Regions from separate parts of the Homo sapiens genome. Here regions 2 and 3 are each linked to region 1. Evidence: fine-mapped expression QTL. A gene starts in region 1. Each other region holds a variant in brackets. All regions are shown on one strand. Distances are between the middles of the regions. Region 1 holds the start of CCDC191 (coiled-coil domain containing 191). Region 2 overlaps CCDC191 (coiled-coil domain containing 191). Region 3 has its middle 41 kb from the start of QTRT2.

Region 1 (8,188 bases):
CATGTGATACTCATGGCATTTGAAACGAAGTCTACACACCTGTTTTCTTGTCATTCCTACTTAAATGGTATCATGAGAGGCAACAGAATTATGAAAAAAAATACTAAAAAGTATAAAATTAAGGCAACTTACATAGTCACACGGGAATAAAAATAGCAGAGTATGTGCAAAGTGGAGATCTATTCATATTTCTTTTCCATCTGATTATGCTTGACTCTTAATACTCTTTTTATTCTAAATTTGAAATATCCTTACCTTTATCCAGTGTTCCACACTGTCAGGACCAAAAGTAGGCTGTAGATAACATATATATGATATCAATACGCAGCAATATCTTTATCAACTTTGCCATTTAAATCTATCCTTCTGACTAAAGCATATGGAACAGTGTCCTTTATTATTTCCCCAAAGCATTTCATTAGAAAGTTCAGCATGATTAGCAATAAAAGACACAGAATAGCAGTATGAGGAGAAAACATGAAGCCTTCCTGGGACACTGATTGTTTTTATTTCTTGTCTAGGTCCACCTTGATATTGTGATTTAATTGGTCTGGGATAGGACCCTGGCACTGCTATTTTTTTAAACCTCCTTAGGGTTAAGAGTCAAGATATAGAAATGCTAAATATAAAGCTACTCATTAAAAAAAAAAAGCACTGATTAATTAGCCAGATTATCCAAGTAATCTTTAGCTTAAAGAAGGGTGTGTTCCTCTCCTTACTCCTTTCATAAGTAGCCTGTAGCAAGAGGCTTTCTCATCTTACCCAGATCAGGGATCTTGTTTGGCCCAATAAAAACTGAAGGTTAAAAAATCTGACTTCTACTGTTTTACAAAGCAGAAAATATAAATTTCCACCCAGATCAGTCAGGTATTAATCTGAAATTAGAAGTAAAACCATCAGGGCATTTCCTTTCTTCACTCTCTGTAACTCCTAGAAGCTTGGAGAATTCCCTCTAATAGTCACTTAACAAATAGAGTTATCTTCTTTGCCAAAAATGCAGGTGTGTTTTGGCCGGGAGCAGTGGCTCATGCCTGTAATCCCAGCACTTTGGGAGGCCAAGGCGGGCAGATCACAAGGTCAAGAGATCAAGACCATCCTGGCTAATACGGTGAAACCCCGTCTCTACTAAAAAAAAAATACAAAAAATTAACCAGGCGTGGTGGCGGGTGCCTGTAGTCCCAGCTACTCAGGAGGCTGAGGCAGGAGAATGGCGTGAACCCGAGAGGCGGAGCTTGCAGTGAGCCGAGATTGCACCACTGCGCTCCAGCCTGGGCGACAGAGCGAGACTCTGTCTCAAAAACAAACAAACAAACAAACAACAACAACAACAAAAACTGGGGAATGGGGCGAGGGTTAATCAATCTGACTTTTACTGTTTTACAAAGCAGAAAATATAAATTTCCACCCAGATCAGTCAGGTATTAATCTGAAATTAGAAGTAAAACTATCAGGACATTTCCTTTCTTCAACCTCTGAAACTCCCAGAAGCTTGCAGAATTCCCTCTAATAGTCACTTAACAAATAGAGTTATCTTCTTCACTAAAAATTCAGGTGTGTTTTTAAAATAAGGGGATATCCTGATGATTTGTCATTGGAGCACTAAATCTCTTTTGGTTTGGCGTTCCCAGTTCATGAATTGCTTCTTACTCAAATATACTCTTTAAAATAATAATAATAATAATAATAATAAAATAAGGGGATATCTAAACTAGCATACTGACACATGGAGGTGGGAAAAATATAATACTCTTTCACTTACCTAACACTTTACCTTCAAAGCATCTTACTGATAACTAACGCAGCTGTACTGCTTAATAATTTTGTCACTGCAACAAAGAAAGAGCTGATCTAATTAAAATACAACTGAACTTGAAGAAGCCCTATGTTTTTACCTTTTTTTCTCTAGGCAGTAATAATGAGCACTAGCAGCAAAAATCCTTCCTTTTGGAGTCCTAAGAAATTATTCTAAATTTTTACCTTTCATCATCAAGTCCATATCTATATCCTATCTTGGATCCAATACATTATGCAACTGATGTATTGAAATAGCAGCAGCCTCAGTTTCCAAGTCTCCCTGATGCTTCAGTCTGTGCCCTCTAGTATCTAGGGCAACATATTTGTCATGTGGAATATGTCCAATGCATTTAGCTGGTAAATTTAGAATAAATCGCAAGAACAATCGCCTGGGGCCCTCAAAAAGGCCACATACATCTACAGAATATTATTTAGGAAAGTATAACTTAAGGGTGAAAACAGCTGGTGAAACTGCTCTGTAGCTGAAAGCTGAGAAGCTTCTCCATTTTAGTACTCTCATTTAGATTTTAAGCATCTTTTTGGGGACTGTTAAAAAGGTAGTCTGTGGAAAGCACACGGTGCAACTGTGACTTTGCACATGTCACATATGTTTCAAGTTTAAAATGGGGTTATTATTTTTTTCTTATCTTCAGGTGCTAATGCATCCAAATGGGTGATAGATACGGAGAGAATCTATTTTTTGAAAGTTGGTTGAATTTAGAAATTACTATGTGAATCAAGTATTAATGTATTCAATATCCATTTGCACTCCTGAGTTTATTTAGATACTTTACGTAAAAGTGAAGGGGCAGGAATATAGGCAGGGTATTTAATGTGAAGCTCTCTCCCGTTAATAAAGATCAATTACCCCAAGATTTGCAAAAAAAAAAAAAGAGAGAGAAAAAGAAAGAAATGTGCGAGAAGTTTCCTAAAATTTAAGGTAGGGGGAACGGAGTTTGCAAACTCCTTTCACCCCGATGGGCATTAGCAGACACCTCCGGTTTTAGAAAAGCGTTACAAACAGTTCTTCCACGATGCTGCCCACCAAAGCCGTAATGTGCCCAGACCCCAGAGCTCCTAGAGCATTTCACTCAGGGTAATGCTGGCTTTGGGGCGGTCAAGGCAGGGGCGTGTCAGCTCAGGATGAAGAGGCAGGAAGCACAGACGGGCCGCGACTGGCTTCCTGACTGCGCCGCGCCTTGGGAAAGTCCCCGCCCTCCAAAGCTCTCGATTGGGATCACCTTGGGACTCGGCTTCCTTGTGAACCGTTTCCAGCGATTCAGCCCCATCCTTTTCTTTGAGAAGGACCTTCCCTGAGGCGCCAGGAGCATTTTCCAAGTTCGAGCCCGAACCTCGGCCAAAGCTGCAGCAACCGCCCTTCTGCCCGGGCTGCCTCCGGGTCACGCTGGGAATTGTAGTTCCTCCGCCCGCAAGGAAAGCAGGCATAGGACACCGTCGAACCACCACTCCCACGAGGCTCTGCGCAGGCCGCTCGCGTTGGCTCAGTTACCATAGCAACGGCAGAGGTCCCTCGCTCTTGCCGTCATCAAGGCTCGCTTGAATGTCGGCTTTGCTTTTTTTCTGGCGCCCAGTGATGACGCAGTACTCCCTGATTGGCTCTGCACTGGAGGCAGTGATTTTGGGGCAGAGAATTTTGCAACACGTGGTAGTGAACTGTGAGGAGTTTGAGGGGTCTGAAGACTGAAAGAGTCGAATGGTTTGTTGGCAGGTAAGTGCCCCTTTGCCCTGCTGGTGTGGGAGCTGCTAGAGATGGATGAGTCACGTCGCGTCCAGACGCTTCCTGGTTGTGTTGCAGTAACGGTGATTGTACTCCCGCCATGTCTCCTCTGCTTCCCTTTTCAGGGTGTCCTGGTGGATTGGTTTCTGTAAGTTCAGATTCTCATAAATCGTGTGAGCGTCGCCGACACCTCTGAGATAAAAGGGCCCCTTTCGACTAGCCTCTGCTGAAAGGTAGAGTTTTCAGGAAGTTTTTATTCCGAACTGCCCATGGGAGGGTGGGACCGTCTTCAATCTCTGAGCCAGGTGCCTAGGGAGGTCTGGGGCCATGGAGATGGCCCATGGAGCAAAGATAAATCCAGGCTTATTGGCTTAGCCGAGGTGTTTCCAGAGACAGCCCATTTAGGGGTGATAAATGGGCTTATAAAGCAGAGTAAAGATTTAGAACAGGAGTTTTGAATTCAACTACTTTGTGGCTATATGACCCTAGGCAACTTGTTTAATAACTCAGAGACCCTGTTTTCTCATGCAAAATGGGGACGATAATACCTGAATCACTGGAGTGTTGTAATGATTAAAAATAAATGTATGTGAAGCATTCTGCCAGGAAATGTAAACTAAAGTTGATTTGAAATTGGTGAAAATGAAGTTAGGGAAGCTATGCCCTCGGACTGTTGCAGCGATCCTAGGACCAGCTCTGTAACTGGTCTGTCTGAAAGGCGGTTGAATAAATTGTGCTCATACAAACTATGCAGTACCACGAAGTAGTTTTTTTCAAAAGGGTAAGTTAGCTTTATGTCTCTTCTTCAGGAAAGACGTCTAATGTTTATTCTTGAGAGAAAAGCAAATTGCAGAGAAGTGCATATATTATAGTATAATATGTTTCCATTTTTGTAAAAGCAAACCCTGACCAAAACACTCCCTCCCATATGCAAGTATGTTTAAATATTTGTATGAGAATGGAGAAAGATTGCAGAGACTGGGAGGATGGATTAGAGGCGGGAGGGAGAAAGGGAAAAGAAGAAGAACACTATAGCAAAATGGAAACTAAGATTATAATGTGCTTGTGTACCAGATGGAACTTCTAATAAGCTCCCAGCCTATTAGAGTACAGCGCTGAAAACTAGACTTCAATAATTAAAGTCCTTGCTCTGCCACTTACCAGCTGGGGATTTTATCAGCCTCAGTTTATCATACATAAAATGCAGATAATAATGGTATCTATATTATGCATTTGATCTGAGGATTAATGGAGTGAATATATAAAGAACAGTGCTTAATACATAGTAAATACCCGATAAATGTTAGTTGCTATTATTGTCTTTCTATATGTGAAATTAATTTAACTTTTATTGTGATTACTGACATTTGGAATTCTACCATCTTATTTTGTGTTTTCTATTTCTTTTTTTTGGTCTCTTTTCCTTTCTTGCCTTTTATTAGGTTAATTCATTTTTCTTTATCTTCCCACTTCCCTCTCCAGTGAGTTTGGAAATTATGCATTCTGTCATTAATCGTTTAACAGTTACTTCTGAATTTTTAACACACATACTCAACAAAGTTTAACGTCGTCGTTATCTCTTTCCCCCTACCAAATGGTGTAACGATTTCCGAATGCCTTGGAAAAATCTTCATTTACTGTTTTCTAGAATTGTAGCGTTCTTCATTTCTTTTTTTTGAGACGGCATCTTGCTTTGTTACCCAGGCTGGACTGCAGTGGCATGATTTTGGCTCACTGCAACCTCTGCCTCCTGGGTTCAAGTGATTCTCCTGTCTCAGCCTCCGGAGTAGCTGGTATTACAGGCATGTGCTGCTACACCTGGCTGATTTTTGTGTTTTTAGTAGAGACGGTTTCACCATGTTGGCCTGGCTGGTCTCGAACTCCTGACCTTAGGTGTTCCTCCCACTTCGGACTCCCAGAGTGCTGGGATTACAGGCGTGAGCCACCGTGCCCGGCCAGCGTTCTTCATTTCTGTGTGTCATTTCTGAGTCAGCTCAATGCACCACATTGTTTAAAAGTCCTTCAGTCATTTTTCTATGCATATACTATGATTATAGAAAGTGTACATGTGTGGGAGAGAGGGGTAAGAGATGCTGATGTGTACTTATATATACAGCTTTCCTTTCACAAAAAATATGACCATCTTTTGCCTTAGGAAATTTTGGACATTTCCATGGCAGTATGTAGAGAATCCAGCTAGGAAACATTTAAAAATCCATTCTCTCCTGATAAATGAAGAGTGGAGGTGGTGGGTCGCACTGGAAGTGTTAGGACAGGTACGGTGTTGCCAGAAGTGCAGGGAATCTTTGTTAGTCCTTGTAAAGGTACAGATCCACTGACAGCCTGTCATTTGTCTTTACACTCTTAAGGGTTTTTCCTTAAGACTTTCTCAGGAATGCCATCTGTGACACCAGAAATATTAGAGCAGACCCACAACAAGTGAAAAGGGAAGGGATCATGATAAAGGCAAATAAAAACTAGTTAGTATTTTGGAGACTGTTGATCTGTTTCTTGAACTTTCCTTGGCAAAAAAGGAAATAATCACTCTCAAAGCATGTTTTTAAAAATATGTACATGAATATGTGTATGTGTGTGTACTATTTTATTACTTCATAGTAACAATTTATTGTATTTGAGCCTCTAGAAAAGAAGTGTAATTATAAAAAACATTTACCATAACCTGAACAATGAATGAAGAAAGGAAGACTTGGTTCTTCTAGCTCTGGACAAAATTCCATTTTTTTAAAAAAAATATTGATTTCCAGCTGAAGTATAGTACATCTCTGATGTTTTCCTCAGATTTTAAAATATTTGCATTCATCCCCACAAAACAGAATCACTGACCATGGCAGTTTATTTTAATACTTTTTCTTAAACCCAGTCATCTGCTTTTGCTTCCTTATTTTTCTCTTCGTTAATATGTTGAGTTACTGTGATTAGGGTGGAACTTTTATGAAGCCCCAAACAACAGAAGTGAGTATGTAGCACCAAAATCGTTCACTGTAGAGAAAGCCAAGTAGGTATTTCTCTCCAGCTGGCTGAGTGGGTTCAGTATTCTAAGCTGAGGATTTTGAATTTCATCTTTAAAGTTATTTGGGATTAAAGCATTATATCACAGGAGAGCCCATCTCTGCCTCTAAGAACATGGTGGCCAATGTCCTTTAGAGTTACAAAGGACCTCTAATTACAGACTTTCAGTTAAGAATCAAGAAAGTTGTTTCTTCAGTTGAGGAAAGAGTGGGAAGGGGAGATGAGAGGGAAGGGGAGATGAGAAAGAAGAGAGAAGATGCCTTCAGGACTGAGTGGATGATTAATCACACTTGAGACTCGTTTGTTAAAAGATGGGAACTTCTAGAATATGTTCATTCTTTCCTTACACAAGGATGAAACTAAGAAGTCTTTGAGAGAAAGGTAAGTCTTGGAAGCCAATGGTCTGGGCTTCCAGGTCTGGCTGCCTTTATACTCTTAGAGAATCCTTGTGTCCAACCTTGGAGAATCTGAGATTGGTTGTTTGGTCATCTTCGCTTATCTGTGGGGAATATGTTCCAAGACCCCTTGTGGATGCTGGAAACTGCAAATGGTTCCAAACCCCAGATAGATAGGTAGGTAGGTAGGTAGGTAGGTAGATAGATAGATAGATAGATAGATAGATAGATAGATAGATAGATAGATAAGATAGATTAGATAGATAGATTAGATAGATCCAAACCCTAAATAGATAGACAGACAATAGACAGACAGTATGATGTTTCCTATCTATACATACCTATAATAAAGTTTAATTTATTAATTAGGCACAGTAGTAGATGTTAGTCACCTCGGCAAACAGTCTTTTTTCTTTTCCTAGTTGGAGAACTTTAACCTTTTCTCATAAGGGATCACTTTATGGCTTCCCTTTGGCATATCCGTATTGCCAGCATCACAACTCTTGTGCTGTGGGGCCAGTCGTAAGTAAAATAAGGGTAACTTGAACATAAGCACTGCAATACAGTGACGGTTGATCTGATCAATGTGACAGCTCCTAAGTAACTAAGGGGCGAGTGGCGTCTACAGTGTGAAGATGCTGGGCAAAGGGATGATTCACGTCCTGGGTGGAACAGAGCAAAATGGTGAGAGATTTCATTATGCTACTCAGAATGGCATGCAATTTCAAACTTATGTTTATTTCAGGAATTTTCCGTTTAATATGTTTGGACCTCGGATGTCCATGGGTAACTGAAACTGGAAAGCAGAACTGTGAATGGGGGTACTGTGTTAAGAAAACCGATGGGTTTCCTTTTAGTTGCCTTTATGTACCTTCTTCTTCCCATTCTGATTCTATGCTTGCATGGCATATTTGGCTTCATGTATTGCATTCTATAGGGCAAACATGCCACTGACTGATCCACTTTGCTTTTTTCGATTCTCAGAGTAAATAATTGTGCATACTGATTTTATTGTTTAGTCTCTGAGGTTGATAGGTTTGAGCCTGACCCTGAGTGATGGCTCTGTGCTGGGTATATAGAAAAGATCAGGCTCAGCTTACCAGGCAGAAGCCTAAATCCCTTACCAGTGGCCAGCCAGCCCTCCAAGCAGTACAAGACTGTAAGGCACTGGAGGGAGCAGCAGCAGGTGGCTAATCTTTGAGCCCCTGTGTAATTCTGTTGGCACAGGTTA
Region 2 (8,188 bases), 47 kb before region 1:
GTTCTTCCCAGGGGAGGACTGAGCATACAACCACTGCTTCCCAAGGGAGGCTTTTCCCACAAAGGGGGCACAGCAGTCTCCTGAGAGAGAGAAACATGTTATAGCTCAACTATTTAAAGGACTGTGCTGATGAAATCCAACATTTATGAGGTCAGTATTGTTTTGTTTAATGGCACAACTGCCATGTATTGCAGGTAAAGGTGGTCTGTGCTCCTGGCCTGGCTACCTCAGAGGCCACCACTCTTAAAACATGCATTGCTGCTCACCATGAAAACTGGGAGAGTGGCCGGCTGTGGTGGCTCATGCCTGTAATCCCAGCACGTTGGGAGGCCGAGATGGGCAGATGACTTAAGGTCAGGAGATTGAGATCAGCCTGGCCAACATGGTGAAACCCTGTCTCTACTAAAGGTACAAAAGTTGGCCAGGCATGGTGGTACGCACCTGTAATCCCAGCTACTCAGGAGGCTGATGCAGGAGAATCGCTTGAACCTGGGAAGTGGAGGTTGCAGTGGGCTGAGATTGTGCTACTGAACTCCAGCCTGGGCAACACAGCGAGACCCTGGCTCAAAAAAAAAGAAAACTGGGAGAGTGGCTACAGCTGTATGAACCATTGCCATGGGCCAGGACATTCGTAATAGCAAAAATCTTCTCTTATAAATTTCTAATTTGGACAGTTCATTTGTGAATTAGGCAAGGTTACTCCAGATATATATATATATATATATATATATATATAAATATATATATTTTATATATAAAAAACATGAATTTAATATGCATAAATTGACTCTGAATTTTAGTGGAAATTTGAAGATGTTGTGGCAAAGGATATATTCTTTCTCGAGAATGTCTGAAAACCAAAGAATATCTTTACAAATGAATAATATATCTCTTTTCTTTCAATGCCTCTCCTGACACTAGTAAATTAATCATATGCCATAGTATAGGATATTTAGTTATTTCAGCATCAAGGTCCCGTTAAAGCCTAGCTAACCGTTTCCAGCTATTCCTGAACTATCTATGGGTGGGAAATATTTGGAAGCTCAGGATCACTGGGCAAATATCTGCATTACAAACTATCTATGGGTGGGAAATATTTGGAAGCTCAGGATCACTGGGCAAATATCTGCATTACATAAGAATAATGTTACCTAATAATATTTTGTATTAGCATATCACTAGTTTTCAAAGCTTTATTACATAAATCCCATTTAATAGACTGAGGTACCATACTCAATTACAAGTTCTATACAGAGGGGAAGGAAACAAGAATTTTTATTTAGAAACAGCTATCTTGGCCAAAATAATGTCATATTAAAGTGTCTCTTCTAGAATGGTTTGAGTCCATGTTCTAAGGTCTAAGTTTTTGATTCTGCCATCTGCAATGGCTTAAAGAGAAAAATGCTATGAGCTATCTAAATATCAGAAGCTTCTTGTTCTAACAGGACCCCATCCTTAGGGACTCAAAAATATTTTTCACGATTATAGAAATGCTTTCCATAGACTCAACTGAAATGAAAGATGTGATATATGGAAACTCTGACATGTTAAACACTTTTAAAAGTAACCTTTTATTTCAGTAATGTCAGTGAACACTTATTCATGAGAACACCTGCTTAAGCAATTTATATCAAGCAGGGTATATGTTTTAGGTTCTTTTAAACTTGGTGGTAATGACACCTTATTAACCTAGCAAGACTGTGTCAAAGCCCTGAGTAAAGCGACAGGGTTTCTTTTGGATCATGGTAACTTTTTAACATGAAAATAAAGAACATGAAGGAAAAGCTTAGTGGTACAGATAGTACTTAATAGAGCAGGAGTGAATGGTCTGACTTAATTAGAGAAAATCACCTATTAGCTAACTGATAATTTTGGAAAAATTCAAGGTACAGTTTGTGTGTTCTTAGTACATGAGTTCCTATGACTGTATAATTAATGAGCATCTAACTAAAGATTTTATATTTTCACTTGGTCATGTTTTGCTGTACACGCTGGAAAAAGATTAGTTTACTTAGTCTCTACAGGGTCTATTGTAGCCCTCTATTATCATTTGCTCCATTTTTAACAATACTGTCCTTTCTTGATAAAGTCTTTTGTTCTTGATTTCAGAGATTTGGAGTCTTTTGTTCCCTTGAGTCTAAATATATATAAATTACTATATATATATTACTATATATATAAATTACTATATATATTACTATATATATAAATTACTATATATATTACTATATATAAATTACTACATATATATAGTAATTTTTCTGTTTTGCACAGGTAAAAAATACTTTCTGCTGACTTTTTTTTTTTTTTCATTTAAGAACAGTGGCACTTTGTAAGGTAAAAGGTTCCATACAGCTCTTTCTTAAGATAGAAGTCTGTCTTGGGTCTCAATGGAGACAAAATTATCTGCCATAAAGGTAGATACATTGCCTAGGGGAAGGGACCAAAATGTTACACATAAGTCCCAACAAGCATCTTCCTGATCCCCCCTTGCTCAGAGAATAAGCTTAAATTAAAACTAGCCTACTTGCTAGCAATAATCAGGGTAAAAAGCAAGGCTGGGGACCCTCTAGTGCACAATTTAATTTCACATGTCTGAATTAAGTACTTAACAGCATTATGTGGAGGGTGGAGGTGAGGGGGTAGAAGCTCTTCTCCACAAGGTTTTCTAAACATGACAAGAGCAGTGATAAAAGAAGAAGCCGACAGGATTGACTTTATAAAAACTAAACAACTGTGTATAATACCAAACACCATAACTAAACCAAAAAGACAAATGACAAAATGGAAAAAATGTTTGCAATATATAATAATAAAAGCATCAATAGTCTTAAAATATAAAGAACTCTTATAAATAAGAAAAAGATATCAAATAGAAAAATGGACAAAGGGCATGAAGAGACAAGTCACTATATATCTGTATCTTACTACATCCATATATAGATATATATACAGTCATGCATTGCTGAATAATGGGGATTTGTTCTGAGAAATAGGTGATTTTGTTGTGTAAACACTGTAGAGTGTACTTACACAAACCAGGATGGTATAGTCTACTGCATCTAGGCTATATGGTATAGCCTATTGCCCCTAGTCTACCAACCAGGGCAGGATGTTACTATACGGAATACTGTAGGCAACTGTAACACATGGGAAGTATTTGCATATCTAAACATAGAAAAGGTACAGTAAAAACAGTATACAAGATAAAAAATGGTACACCTGTATGGGGGCACTTACCATGAATGGCACTTGCAGGACTGGAAGTTGCTCTAGATGAGTGAATGTGAAGGCCTAGGACATTATTATATACTAGTGCAGACTTCATAGACATTGTATACTTAGGCCACACTAAATTTATTAGAATTTTTTTTCTTCAGTGATGAATTAATCCTAGCTTACTGTAACTTTCTATTTTATAAACTTTTAAATTATTAACTTTTTGACTCTTTTATAAAGTAACAGCTTAAAACACAAACATTGCACAGCTGTACAAAAATATTTTCCTTCTTTATATACTTATTCCATAAGCTTTTTTTTCCTGTTTTTAAAGAGGTTGTTTTTTAAAAAAATTTTAAAACACATTTTTGTTAAAAACTAAGATACAAACACACATATTAGCCAAGGACTACACAGGGTCAAGATCATCAAGAAGTCACTAAGCAAGAGGAACTTTTTGGCTCCATTATAATCTTATGGGACCACCACTGTGTATGTGGTCAGTCATTCGCCAAAACATTGCTATGTGGTGCACAAGTGTATATTCAATATAAAAATGTTTAACCTTACTAGTAATCAAAGAGATACAAATGTTGAAGCAATAATAAGATGAAAATAGAACATGCATTCCATTTTTAGGTATTATCCTAAGTAAAGCATTATGGATATGTGCAGATTTAGCTACTAGGATGTTCACTGAAGCATTGTTCACAATGGCGGCAAACTGGAAACAACTTAAATTCCAGTAATACAGGAGCTAAACAAATTCCAGCTTATGGTTCATTACAGAGTATCATGTAGCCATTACAAAATGGTGGCACAGAATACTAGTCCTTAGACAGGGGATATGTATTACGTCCACTTGCGGAACTTAAAAAAAAAGAGCTGCCCCACACCCAAAAATTCTGTTTTAGTAGATGTGATTCTGAGGTATACTCTCAGTTGAGAACTACTATTGCAGAAGTGTATGTAATGACAGAAAATGCTCATGTTATATTGTGAAAACGTAATTTTTTTTTTAGAAGAACAGTAAGTATTAGTATTAAGAAGGAAAAAAAAACATGGCCTTCCTTTTCCTGAATTTTGGCAGACGAGTTCCTCAATGGCCTGACTAAAGAAAATTTAAAAGCTAAATAAAATATTAAGAGATAAATTTGCATATGCTTAAAGACTAGATGGCTATACTTTAACATGTTATTAGTGATTATCTATAGATGACAGAATTATAGGAGTTTTTCTCTGTGATCTTCTATCAAATTGCTACAATTAGTACATATGACTTTTCTTATTAGAAAAAGAAAAATTTTAAATTTCCCCTCTTGTAAGTCACAAACTCATTTAGAAAGGAAATGTCTGATGATCAAAAAGGGGAGTTCAAGAGTTATAGACAGTGCTTTACCTGTCTTTTCCTAAACGAATATTTTACTTAGTTGTTTTAAATGCCCTTTCGATATTAAATCCCTACTAACTTCCAATGATGCCAAAGTTTATATATGATTATAAAAAGAAGATTCAATTCAAGGAAATAAACACTGCCTGAAAGGTAGTGCATTGAGGCAGCTCTAATCTTCTGATAGCCTAGACAAAGCAATCTGACAATGACTGACATACCAGCTATAAAAGCACAAACCTCAAATGCAAGTGTTTACTAAGCAGGAAAAACAACGTACCTGTCCATTTTTTACTGGTGGACCCACCATGGCTGTTGCCTCCTCAGGTAGACTGATGCCTGATAACCCATTGGCACTGAGTTTCCCCAGTGATGCTGCCTGCAGCAGTGCATCCATCTTCTTCCTAGTTTCCTCTTTTGTGAGAGCCAGCTCTCTCTTCAGGAGCT[CG/C]GCGCCATGCCAATGCTGCCATTCTGTAAAGCAGTGTCGGAGAACTTGTTTCCGGTTATACTCAGTGGCCAGTTGTTGTTTTCTAAGCAACAAAGCACTTCCATTAAAATAAAGAAGCCATTTACAGTTTGTTAATTGATAATATAAATGAAACATAAGTCCAAAAGGGTTCTAGAAATGCTCCATCTTAGCTCTCGCTTAACATTTTATATTAAGCTAAATGAAATTGCTTTATAAATTCCCCAGTGCAAAGGATCTCCTCATAGAAGGTGTCAGCACTTCAACAGATTACCTTCAAGAAGAAAGAGGAACTGTTCTGTTCTCATGTCACAAGGGCATGTTACATGTTTTTGATTACCATAGTTTCTGAAAGCTTTTGGAGGGGAAAGAGCAAAAAGAAGAGGTACACAAGTAATGACTTTAAAAAGATGAATGCATGAGGGAGACAGAGGTTCAGCTATGCACGAAAATTTTAAAAAGACAGGTTTAGGAGAAAGAGAAAGCAACAAAATTATAACACTTAACAAGTTAAATTGTCAATAATTTAAGTAAAAGGCTTACAAAAATCAAAGTAACACTGAGGGTTGATCTTGTGAAAGAAGAACTGGTCAGGGAAAGGACTGCTAAAGAGAAGGACTCATTTACCAAACCCTTGAACTGAATGCATGTCTGCCCCAAGAAGGTACTTGCTAAGCACTAGATGTGTAAAGGGCAAAGGCAAGGCCCCTGGTCTCATGGAACTCATTTATTTTCTACACCTTCCTAAGGAAGAGCTCACTTTGATTCCTGGAAACTTTATAAATGTTAGGGAATATGACTGAGGGGAGGTTGGGATGTGGTGTTACTGCCAGCCACATTTTCTTCCCAATGGGAATCTGCATTAGGAGATTTGGTGGCAGTCAGTTGAGAATTCAAACATAGAGGTCTGAGATCTATCTATAAGTGAATGGTTATTATCCTGAAGAACTTAGCTGTGAGTGTGGAACTTATTATGTAGTATCAGGGATCAGCTTTGAGGTTCAAAATATACTGTTTAGACACACACTGGATTGTATCTTGGAAAGGTGACTCATATAAGTTCTCCATATCCATTTCTGTTAAACATACATAATGCTTAAGTCTCCTCATGGACTCTTTGGGGTCATATCAAGCAAATCATAAAGTTCTTAACTCAGTGAGTCAGGAGACCATTTCTACAGTTCTTAAATGTTTATACGACTTTTAAACCTTTTTTTGACTGCAACCTACAGTAAGAAAAAATGTCACATTGTGACTCAATATACGTGTGTGTGTGTGTGTGTGTAAAAGTTTCACCAAATAATATTTACCCTTACCACAAGAGATATACTCTGATATTTCTAATCTATTCTATATTTCTTTTAAAAATAAGCAACCCTGCTAACAGCATATTTCATTATATTTAATTGTTTCCTTCTAATGCATTGATAGGTACTCAATAAATATTTAGAAATTCACTCACTGATGGTTTTTGTAATAAAAGTATAATATAGGTGGTAATAAACATTTATGTATGTTTTACTTTTATGAAAACAAATATCTGAGACTGAATAATCTTGAAATAAAAATTTTAGAAGAAATAACAATAAATCAGATAGCAACACAGGTAAGAACAAAGCTCTAAAAATCAGTGTATAAATAGTGAACAAAAAAACCCTGTAACACTTTATTCAAGTGAGTAAAAATCATAAATTTCTACAGGATAGAAGATGTACATTGCTGTGTCTGATTAATGTGAAATTCAATTTCCATCAATCTGCTCTGGAAGGAGGAGTGTGAAATTTACCTGATGTATTAATTTCCTGTTTTTACAGCACAAACAGCCAAAAGCAGCACTGGGGTTTTGACTGTCAAGGAGATTATTTGGACATTATGAAAAGGCAAAGAGAGAAACACTTCTGTAACTATAACAAGACTAAAAAAGTAAGAAAATGAGTAAAAAAATGCATGTTCAATATAGGGCTTAAAGCCCACTCTATAATGGTTGTGCGGGGATATGAAAATGTAGTTGGCCAGGCGCAGTGGCTGATGCCTGTAATCACAGGAATTTGGGAGGCTGAGGTGAGTGGATCACTTGAGCCCAGGAGTTTGAGACTTGGGCCACATAGTGAAACTTCATCTCTACAAAAAATATAAAAATTAGCTGGGCGTGGTGGTGAGTGCCTGTAGTCCCAGCTACTTGGGAGGCTGAAGTGGGAGGATCACCTGAGCCTGGGAAGTGGAAATTGCAGTGAGCCGAGATTGTGCCACTGCACTCCAGCCTGGGCAACAGAGTGAGACCCTGTGTCAAAGAAAAAAAAAAAAGTAAAAAAGAAAAAACAGAAAATGTAGTTACGATATCTGTATTTGTGGTTTGAGGCAGAAAGGCAGAAGCACAGAAGCTAGAGATCCAGAGACAAGGATAGTTCCACTACTGTTTTCTTGTAGCTCACTTCAGCAGAGTGACAATGTTGCATATAAGCCAATTTCTATACTTTCTAAAAGATAACACTAAAACATAAATATTTCTAAAAGCGAAAAATCACTTAAATTTCTTAAACCTTAGTCAGATGCAACTTACTTTGGTATGCTCACCTAAAGAAATGGTTTCAGACATAGGTGCCAGATAATCATAAATGGAAGGGCAGAGTTCCCTTATGAAAAATAGCCTATCCCAATTTCCTTGCAATCTGAAATCAGGGAATTTCTAGCCAGAGTATATAAATTGATCATCACAATGATATATAACTGCATGCAGAGAAAGGCAGGCTCTGCTCATCTAAGAATATAAAATACAAAAGGTTTGAATAGGAATTTAAGTATGAACCTTGCTGCCCAGGATGAACACTCAATGATACTGGGTGACTGGTGCATGTTTTGGAACTTACAAGTCAGAAGAAGAATGCTAACTAGACATGGGACACTGGGACAGCAACTGAGTTTCTAAGCCCCAGATTCATCCTCAAAAACAGTGTCAGTAAGCCCTATTATGCTGCCTATCCTACAAGAGTTTTTTTCCTGAGAATCTAATTCAATTTAAAACAACCCTGAAAATATAGAACAAAATTCACATGTAAGGTAATACCCACTGTCTTAGGACAAGACTACTAGATATCTGCAAAGTGTCTTGAACG
Region 3 (8,188 bases), 41 kb after region 1:
CATAATCTGAACCTAACCAATTGCCGTGGACTTTTCCACTTTTCCTAAGTGGTTATATCCTAATCCTACCCATTCTCAAGGTCCAGCCCAAGAACCAAACCTTCCATAAAAACTTGCTTTTCTAGAATTCTAGAGTCTCAAGATTGGAAGAGGAGAGGCTTCTATTCTGATTTCCTTTGTTCATAAAGGCACCAGCAACCAGTGCTCTAGGCATCTGATTTAATCAGTGCTTCAGTTCTGTGAGCCTCATCTTCCAACCAGACTATCAGCTCTGTAAGGGAAAGATAATCCCTCAGCATTTGCCGTGTCTGCACCCTCACCCCTGCCCCACTGAAATTAAGGGAGAATGTGTGATTAATTTTCTTCTCATCATGTGTCTGTAGTATGTTCTCTACTTCTCCATCTTTAACACATCACTTTATCCGTTTCTTTTTTCATTATAATTTGTTCAATTCTGTCTGTGCCTTATCCATTACCTTCTTTTTTATTTTTATTTTTATTTTTTTAAGATGGAGTCTCGCTCTGTTGCCAGGCTGGAGTGCAGTGGTGTTCCCGGCTCACTGGAACCTCCGCCTCCTAGATTCAAGTGATTCTCCTGCCTCAGCCTCCCGAGTAGCTGGAACCACAGGTGCATGATACCATGCCCGGCTAATTTTTTGTATTTTTTTTTTTTTTAGTAGAGACAGGGTTTCACCGTGTTAACCACGATGCTCTCGATCTCCTGACTTCGTGATCCATCCATTACCTTCTTTATTGCTCATGGCAACCCTCTGAGGTTGACATTATCTTTTCCAATTTACAGAGGAGAAATTGGGCTGGGTGTGATGGCTCATGCCTTAGTTCCAGCACTTTGAGAGGCCAAAGTGGGAGGATCACTTGGGGCCAGGAGTGTGAGACAAGCCTGGGCAACAAAGCAAGACCCCTATCTCTACAAAAAATAAAAAATAACTAGCTGGGCATGGTGGTACACACCTGTAGTCCTGGCTACTCTGGAAACCAAGGAGGGACGATCACTCGAGCCAAGGAGTTTGAGGCTGCAGTGAGCAATGAACCCCAGCCTCAGTAACAGAGCAAGACTGTCTCAAAAAAAAAAAGACACAAAGCAAGGGATCCAGGATTTGAACTCTGAACTCAGCACTATGACTCAAAAGCCCAGGATTTTCCCCATTTTACCCCGGACCTTCCTAAATTGTGTTTTTCTTATGCAGAGCATCTGCTCTCCTTCAAGAACAACGACCAAAAGTAGGTGGAGGCAGCTGGGCGCGGTGGCTCACGCCTGTAATCCCAGCACTTTGGGAGGCCGAAGCGGGCGGATCGCAAGGTCAGGAGATCGAGACCATCCTGGCTAACACGGTGAAACCCCATCTCTACTAAAAATACAAAAACAAAATTAGCCGGGCGTGGTGGCGGGCGCCTGTAGTCCCAGCTACTTTGGAGGCTGAGCCGGGAGAATGGCATGAACCCGGGAGGTGGAGCTTGCAGTGAGCCAAGATTGCGCCACTGCACTCCAGCCTGGGCGACAGAGTGAGACTCCGCCTCAAAAAAAAAAAAAAAAAAAAAATAGGTGGAGGCCTATCCCAAACTGAACTTTTGTGTACTCTGAACCTCTCCTATTTGCCCTCTGGGCTACCCCCATAATTACTCCGTGGTATTAAGGACTGGTAAGTTGGGATAACTTATTAACTATTCCTCTTTCTATTTGTGGTCTCAGAAATCTGAACTACATTTTAATGATAAGAGGGCTGAGGAGTGACCCAGAGATGCTAATTTTGTTTTGGTTAAAATCTCATACATTCGCATATAAATGAAAAGCAAAAGGACGTTTAAATCGTAGAAAGGGAAAAAAATAGCTTAGTCTTTCTCTTTGTCAGAAAGAAGCTTCTTTGGTAACACATAGTGTATGATTTTAGAGCCAGAAGGAATGTTACAAATTATCTATCCAACCCCTTCATTTGACAGAGGCAGAACCCAGGCCCAGACAGTGTGTGACTAACCCAAGGTCCAACAGGAAATGAGAGGCAAGGCTAGAACTAGAGTCTAGGTTTCCTTTTCCACCCCAATTCTTCTCTGAGTCCTTATCTCTTGTTCTGCCTCTATTCAGCCTCGTTGGTAACTTGTACCTCACAAACTAGGTGTGGTACAGACATTATTATTGCTACTCTGACAGTGACTATAGCCTTTCTGGCTGCTGGGATAACAGTGATTCTTGAACACAGAGACCATTCTGTTTGTAGATACATTTTAGGAGACTTCGTTATTATGACTGTGGATATAATGGAATTTGGAAAAAGATGTCTCAAACCCAGCTCAGAAAGATATATAGACCAAGCCCTTTCCAATATATTATGCCATTTATAATTCCCTCCCTGGCCTATGCCCCTCCTATAATTATACTTTAATAATTTTTGTTGGTTGCTGGTTTTTATCAGAAGAGGGGAGGAAGTGAGCATCTTCCAGGGCCTCATCAGGAGATCCTGTCTTTTTCTCACAGGTCCTTGATAGTCTATGGAATTTGTCCCAGCCGATAAGCACATACAACCCAATCTTAATCAGGGACTTCCCAATATATTGGTACCAAGGATTTTGCTCATTTGTGTATGTCTTCCCCATCCTAATTCTCTGATACTTAGAATTCATTTATTCACCTAGTCAAGAAAGATTAATCCACTGCCAACTAAGTGTCAAGTGCTCTCCAGACACTGGATTAAATGACAAAAACCCTACTTGCCTTCTCGCAATTTATAGACCAGGAGCAAACTCCAAAATTACGTATATTCTACATAGAGTTAGAAAGCTTCACTTTACTCATGTAGTCTGTCAAATCAAAGTCCAACCTAATGTAACCACCCAATGGGTTCTCCTTGCCCACTGCCCAGAGAGAGCTGATTTAAGACAGGGGAATTGGAATAGAGAAAGAGTTTAATTCATGCAGAGCCTGCTAAATGGAGACCAGAGTTCTGTTACTCAAATCAGTCTCCCCCAAAATTTGGAGACTCGGGTTTTTAAAGGATAATCTGGCAGGTAGGGGACCAGGGAGTGGGGGTCGCTGATTGGTTGGGTCAGAGATGAAATCATATGGGGTCAAAGTGGATTCGTCTTACTGTCTCCTGCTCCTAGGTGGGATTGCAGTGCTGGTTGAGCCAGATTACTGGTCTGGGTGGCACCAGTTGGTGCATCAGAGCACAAGGTCTGCAAAATATCATGAGCACCAGTCTTACGTTTTATGATAGTGATGTTATCCCTAGGAGCAACTGGGGAGGTTTAGAATCTTGTGGTGTCTAGCCGCATGACTCCTAAACCATAATTTCTAATCTTGTGGCTAGTTAGTCTTACAAAGGCAGCCTGGTCCCCAAGCGAGAAGAGGGTTTGTTTTGGGAAAGGGCTGTTATTATCTTTGTTTTAAAGTTAAACTATAAACTAAGTTTCTCCCAAAGTTAGTTCAGCCTCATGCCCAAGAATGAACAGGGGCAGCTTGGTGGTTAGAAGCAAGATGGAGTCAGTTAGGTCAGATATCTTGCACTGTCATAATTCTCCCACTGTCATAATTTTGCAAAGGCTGTTTCACTAAGAGATGACAGAAGGTGGAAAATCACCACATGACAGTATCTATGGGTAAAGAAAATCAAAATGTTAGTGGTTTACATTTCATTATCTACTCATTATTAAGGAAAGAACTACAGACCAAATTAATGAGTTGAATTTGCCTCTTAGCTGCCTTGATTAGCTCAACATTAATTCTGTTTGAGTGTTCTTTTTCCTTCCCTCCCTCCCTTCCTTCCTCCCTTCCTTCCTCCCTTCCTCTCTCTCTTTCTTTTCTTTTCTTTTCTTTTGAGACAGAGTTTTGCTCTTGTTGCCCAGGCTGGAGTGCAATGGCATGATCTCGGCTCACCGCAACCTCCGCCTCCCAGGTTCAAGCAATTCTCCTGCCTCAGCCTCCCGAGTAGCATGCGCCATCACACCTGGCTAATTTTTTTTTTTTTGTATTTTTAGTAGAGATGGGGTTTCTCCATGTTGGTCAGGCTGGTCTTGAACTCCTGACCTCAGGTGATCTGCCCACCTCGGCCTCCCAGAGTGCTGGGATTACAGGAGTGAGCCACCAC[G/T]CCTGGCCTCTCTTTCTCTTCTTTTTTGAGACAGGTTTTTGCTCTGTTGCCCACAATGGAGTGCAGTGGAATGATCTTGGCTCACTGCAACCTCCATCTCCCGGGCTCAAGGTAATCCTCCTGCCCCAACCTTCCCAGGAGCTGGGACTACAGGCATGCGCCACCACAAGATGGGGTTTTGCCATGTTGCCCAGGCTGATTTTGAACTCCTGAGCTCAAGTGATCCACCTGCCTCAGCCTCCCAAAGTGCTGGCACTACAGGCGTGAGCCACTGCACCCCGCCCTGAGTGTTCTGCATCTTAAGGTTCCCAACAAATCTGTAAGCACCCTAGAAGTATGATTGTTCCCATTTTATATTTGAGGAAACAGGGCTGAAACAGTCAAGTAACTGTTTTAAATAATTCTGGGCTGGGCACAGTGGCTCATAGCCAGGAGTTTGAGACCAGCCCAGGCAGTATGGGGAGACCATGTCTCCATTAAAAAAAATAATAATAATAATAGTAAAAATAGGGAGTTTCAGCGCCTACTCTGGCTCAAGAGGCTGCCTGATAAAATAACAAAATGAATAAAATAAAATCACTTTGACTTCAGGAATATCTGCTTGAAGAGCCTGTGCTATTATTTCTGTTCTCCTTCCCTTCTCACTCACTGTCGCCTGGGGGCCAGGGTAAGACACTGCAATGAATATAAAAACAATATAACCTCCTCACTCTTAATAAATGTGTTTCTACAAAGTCATGTCCTGATTTTGTTTATTTATTTATTTTATTTTATTTTTTTGAGACAGTCTTGTTCTGTTGCCCAGGCTGGAGTACAGTGGTGCAATCTCAGCACACTATAAACTCTGTCTCCCAGGTTCAAGTGATTCTCCCACCTCGACCTCCCTGGTAGCTGGGTCTACACGTGCATGCCACCACGCCCAGCTAGTTATTATATTTTTAGTAGAGGTGGGGGTTTTGCCATGTTGGCCAGGCTGGTTTCGAACTCCTGACCTCAAGTGATCCACCCACCTCAGCCTCCCAAAATACTGGGATTACAGGCATAATAGAGCCACTGCACCCAGCCATGTCCTGATTTTATTAACACAATTTTGGGAAAAGTGATTTAATCTTGACATCTAAGAAGATAATCAGGGGAGTAGAGACCTTTCCTAATGACATCCCATTTACTAAAAACCTTTTTGGAGCAACATTTGGAAATAGAGTTCAGGAAAGGAACTCAGACTGGGCAGTACATTCGGTTGAGTATTTCTAATGATAGCATTGTATATATGCTTTAAATTTTAGAAAATAACAAAGTCATTTAAATCCATGTCTCAGCTGGATGCAGTGACTCACACCTGTAATCCCAGCACTTTAGCAAAGGCTGAGGCAGGAGGATCTCTTGAGGCCAGGAGTTTGAGACCAGCCTGGGCAACAAAGATAAACCACATATATACAAAAAATTTAAAAATTAGCCTGGTGATGTGGCATGCACCTCTAGTCCCAGCTACTTGGGAGGCTGAATTGGGAAGATTGCTTGAGCTTAGAAGTTGGAGGCTGCAGTGAGCATGATCACACTATTGCATTCTAGCCAGAGTGACAGAGCAAGACTCTGTCTCAAAAATCAATTGAGGCCAGGTATGGTGGTTCATGCTTGCAATCCCAGCACTTTGGGAGGCCAAGGCAGGAGGATTGCTTGAGCCCAGAAGTTCAAGGCCAGCCTGGGCAACATAGCAAGACCTTGTCTCTATTAATTTTTTTTAAATTAAAAAAAAAGCCATGTTTTATGAGGAGGTCAGGCTTAACTTACTGGAGTTTTTTTTTAAAATGTGATTTTGAAGTCAGTGATAAGATCCTAGCTAAGAAGCCACATTTGACATGTTCATTTGGAGATTTTCAAAGTTGCCATTTTGTACTGTTCACCAATTTGGATGCTCAATATTTGTTGAATGGATAGTCTATTCATTCAACATGTATTGCCTCTTACTATGCCCCACATTTTTTGGATGGTGGAGATTCAAAGGTGAAAATGTCAAGGTTTTTGCTTTTGAAATCACAGCTTAGTGGATGAAATAAATACTTCATTACAAAACAGCATAATAATCACTTTGCTAGTGGAATATACAAAGAACTATGGTATGAAAAGGTGAAAGTCTTTCTCACCTTGTTTTCTCAACTAAAATAAGAATATTCTGGTTGATAAATATGAATCTACTGTACTTATGGGGACAATAAAAAAAAACAGTTGAATTGGTACTTTAAAACACAATATATAGGGTGCAATGCCTATAATCCCAGAGCTTTGAGAGGCTGAAGCAGAGAATCTCCTGAGACCAGGAGTTTGATACCAGTCTGAGCAACAAAGTAAGACACCATTTCTACCATCCCCCACCCCAAAAAATAGCTGGATGCTTGTAGTGCAGCTACCATACAAAAAAATAGGCTCATGCTTGTAGCCCTACCTACTCAGGAGGCTGAGGTGGGAGAATTGCTTGAACCCAGGAATTCAAGGCTACAGTGAGCTATAATCACGCCACTGTACTCCAGTCTGGGCTACTGAGTGAGACCCTGGCTCTCAATAAAAAAGATGCATAGAGCTTTGCTTTACCAAGGGAATAAAATTCCAGGCCACTAATAAAATGGCCTGAAAATTCCTCCCAGATCTGACCATGTTCTTCCCACAGTGCCCTTTTTCCTCTCTGATTATCTTTCCATCATTCATCCCATTATTCACAATTCGCTGACTGACTAGTCTATGGGAGTAATACAAAAGAAAGGATCATTGCCTTCTCTGATAAAACAAAATGCAGACTTCCAAAGTTTAGTACCAGAAAGAAAGTGATATTCCATGAGGGAATGGTTAACTGATCACAGTAGCTCAGTCTTCTCACTCTGAGTGTTAACTTCCCATTGGGAGGTTTCATATTTGGGTTAGCGCCATCTCCACCATACTAGCTTCTCCCCTAGGAACACTCTGATTCAAGCTGGGTTGGAAACATTTATTTTCTTCCCTGAGAGTAGCTGAAATTTCTTCATTTTTTTCATATAACAGAGTAGATTTAGAGCCACAATCTTTTTTTTTTTTTTTCCTCAGCAGTAGGGTGGCAGAAATATCATCCACAATTGGACGTCTGCTTCACAGTCAGAGGAAGCATTCTAGCCATTGTTATAACCTCCCCTTGGGTCAGAAGTGATTGACAGTAATAACAGCTAATCCTAATTCCATTATCTCATTTGTAGTGGGTTCAATGAACAAGACCCTCTCTATTCTTCAACAGTAACATTAAACAGAAAGCTGGTGTCATTTTCTTAGTTTCAACCAATCAGCTCATAGCCAATCTTGTGTCTTCTGCATTCTTATTCACTCCCCATACAGACATCACTGGATTATTTTGATGCAAATCCTAGATGTTATATAATCTCATTCATAAATATTTCAATATGCATCTAAAAGATAAGGGCTCTCTTTAAAAACTTAAACACAGTACTGTTATTATACCTGAAAAGAAATAATAAGCTCTCACTATAACCAAATATTCTGATGGTATTCACGTTTCCTCCATCATCTCATAATTTTTTTCTGTTAGTTTGTTTGAATCAGCATCCATATGGCTACTCAGTGCTTGAATTGCAACTAGTCTCAATTGTGATGTGCTGATAATGTAAAAATACAACACATTTCCAAAACTTAACAGAAAAAGATATAAAATATTAATTATTTTTACATTGATTATAATCAATCAATCAATTGTAATTTCAATGCTTCAATCATAATTTCAATGATTTTTGAATATGTTAGATTCAATAAAAATATGTTAAAATTGTTTTCACCTATTCATTTTTACTTTTTTAATGAGGCTAGTAGAAAACTTAAAATTATACATGTGGTTTGCATTATATTTCTGTTGGATAGTGCTAATCTAAAGGATTGAGCAGGTTCAGGTTTGATTTTTTTTGCAAGACTGTTTCATAGGTGATGATGTGTTATTCCATCTGGAAGTACACAATGGTGGGCCATCTTTTTTGTGCTAAGATTGATCAGTGGTCCAGGTATTACAGCTGGATACATCCATGTTAAGTACATCATCAACTTTAAATCCAATGATT

What was found.
Region 2: its variant is fine-mapped to the expression of CCDC191 in whole blood (INTERVAL, PIP 0.98). The same link has a PIP of 0.9 or more in lung.
Region 3: its variant is fine-mapped to the expression of CCDC191 in aorta (GTEx, PIP 0.98).

Annotation. Positions count from the first base shown.
Region 1 is chr3:114,053,342-114,061,529 of GRCh38, forward strand. It overlaps CCDC191 (coiled-coil domain containing 191), which reads right to left and starts at 3,185. Exons shown (of 17, transcript NM_020817.2): 1 at 3,036-3,185; 2 at 256-294. The coding sequence starts at 3,125. QTRT2 (queuine tRNA-ribosyltransferase accessory subunit 2) reads left to right here and starts at 3,396. Exons shown (of 10, transcript NM_024638.4): 1 at 3,396-3,523; 2 at 3,658-3,765. RefSeq lists enhancers at 2,927-3,336, 5,445-5,944.
Region 2 is chr3:114,005,883-114,014,070 of GRCh38, forward strand. It overlaps CCDC191 (coiled-coil domain containing 191), which reads right to left. Exons shown (of 17, transcript NM_020817.2): 9 at 4,890-5,139; 10 at 1-80. LOC105374048 (a long non-coding RNA gene) reads left to right here. Exons shown (of 3, transcript XR_924347.4): 2 at 6,890-6,998. Among named protein-coding and RNA genes, the nearest start is that of CCDC191, 47 kb to the right of the region's middle. The variant CG/C (reference allele first, on the strand shown) is at 5,057.
Region 3 is chr3:114,093,976-114,102,163 of GRCh38, forward strand. No RefSeq gene overlaps it. Among named protein-coding and RNA genes, the nearest start is that of QTRT2, 41 kb to the left of the region's middle. The variant G/T (reference allele first, on the strand shown) is at 4,101.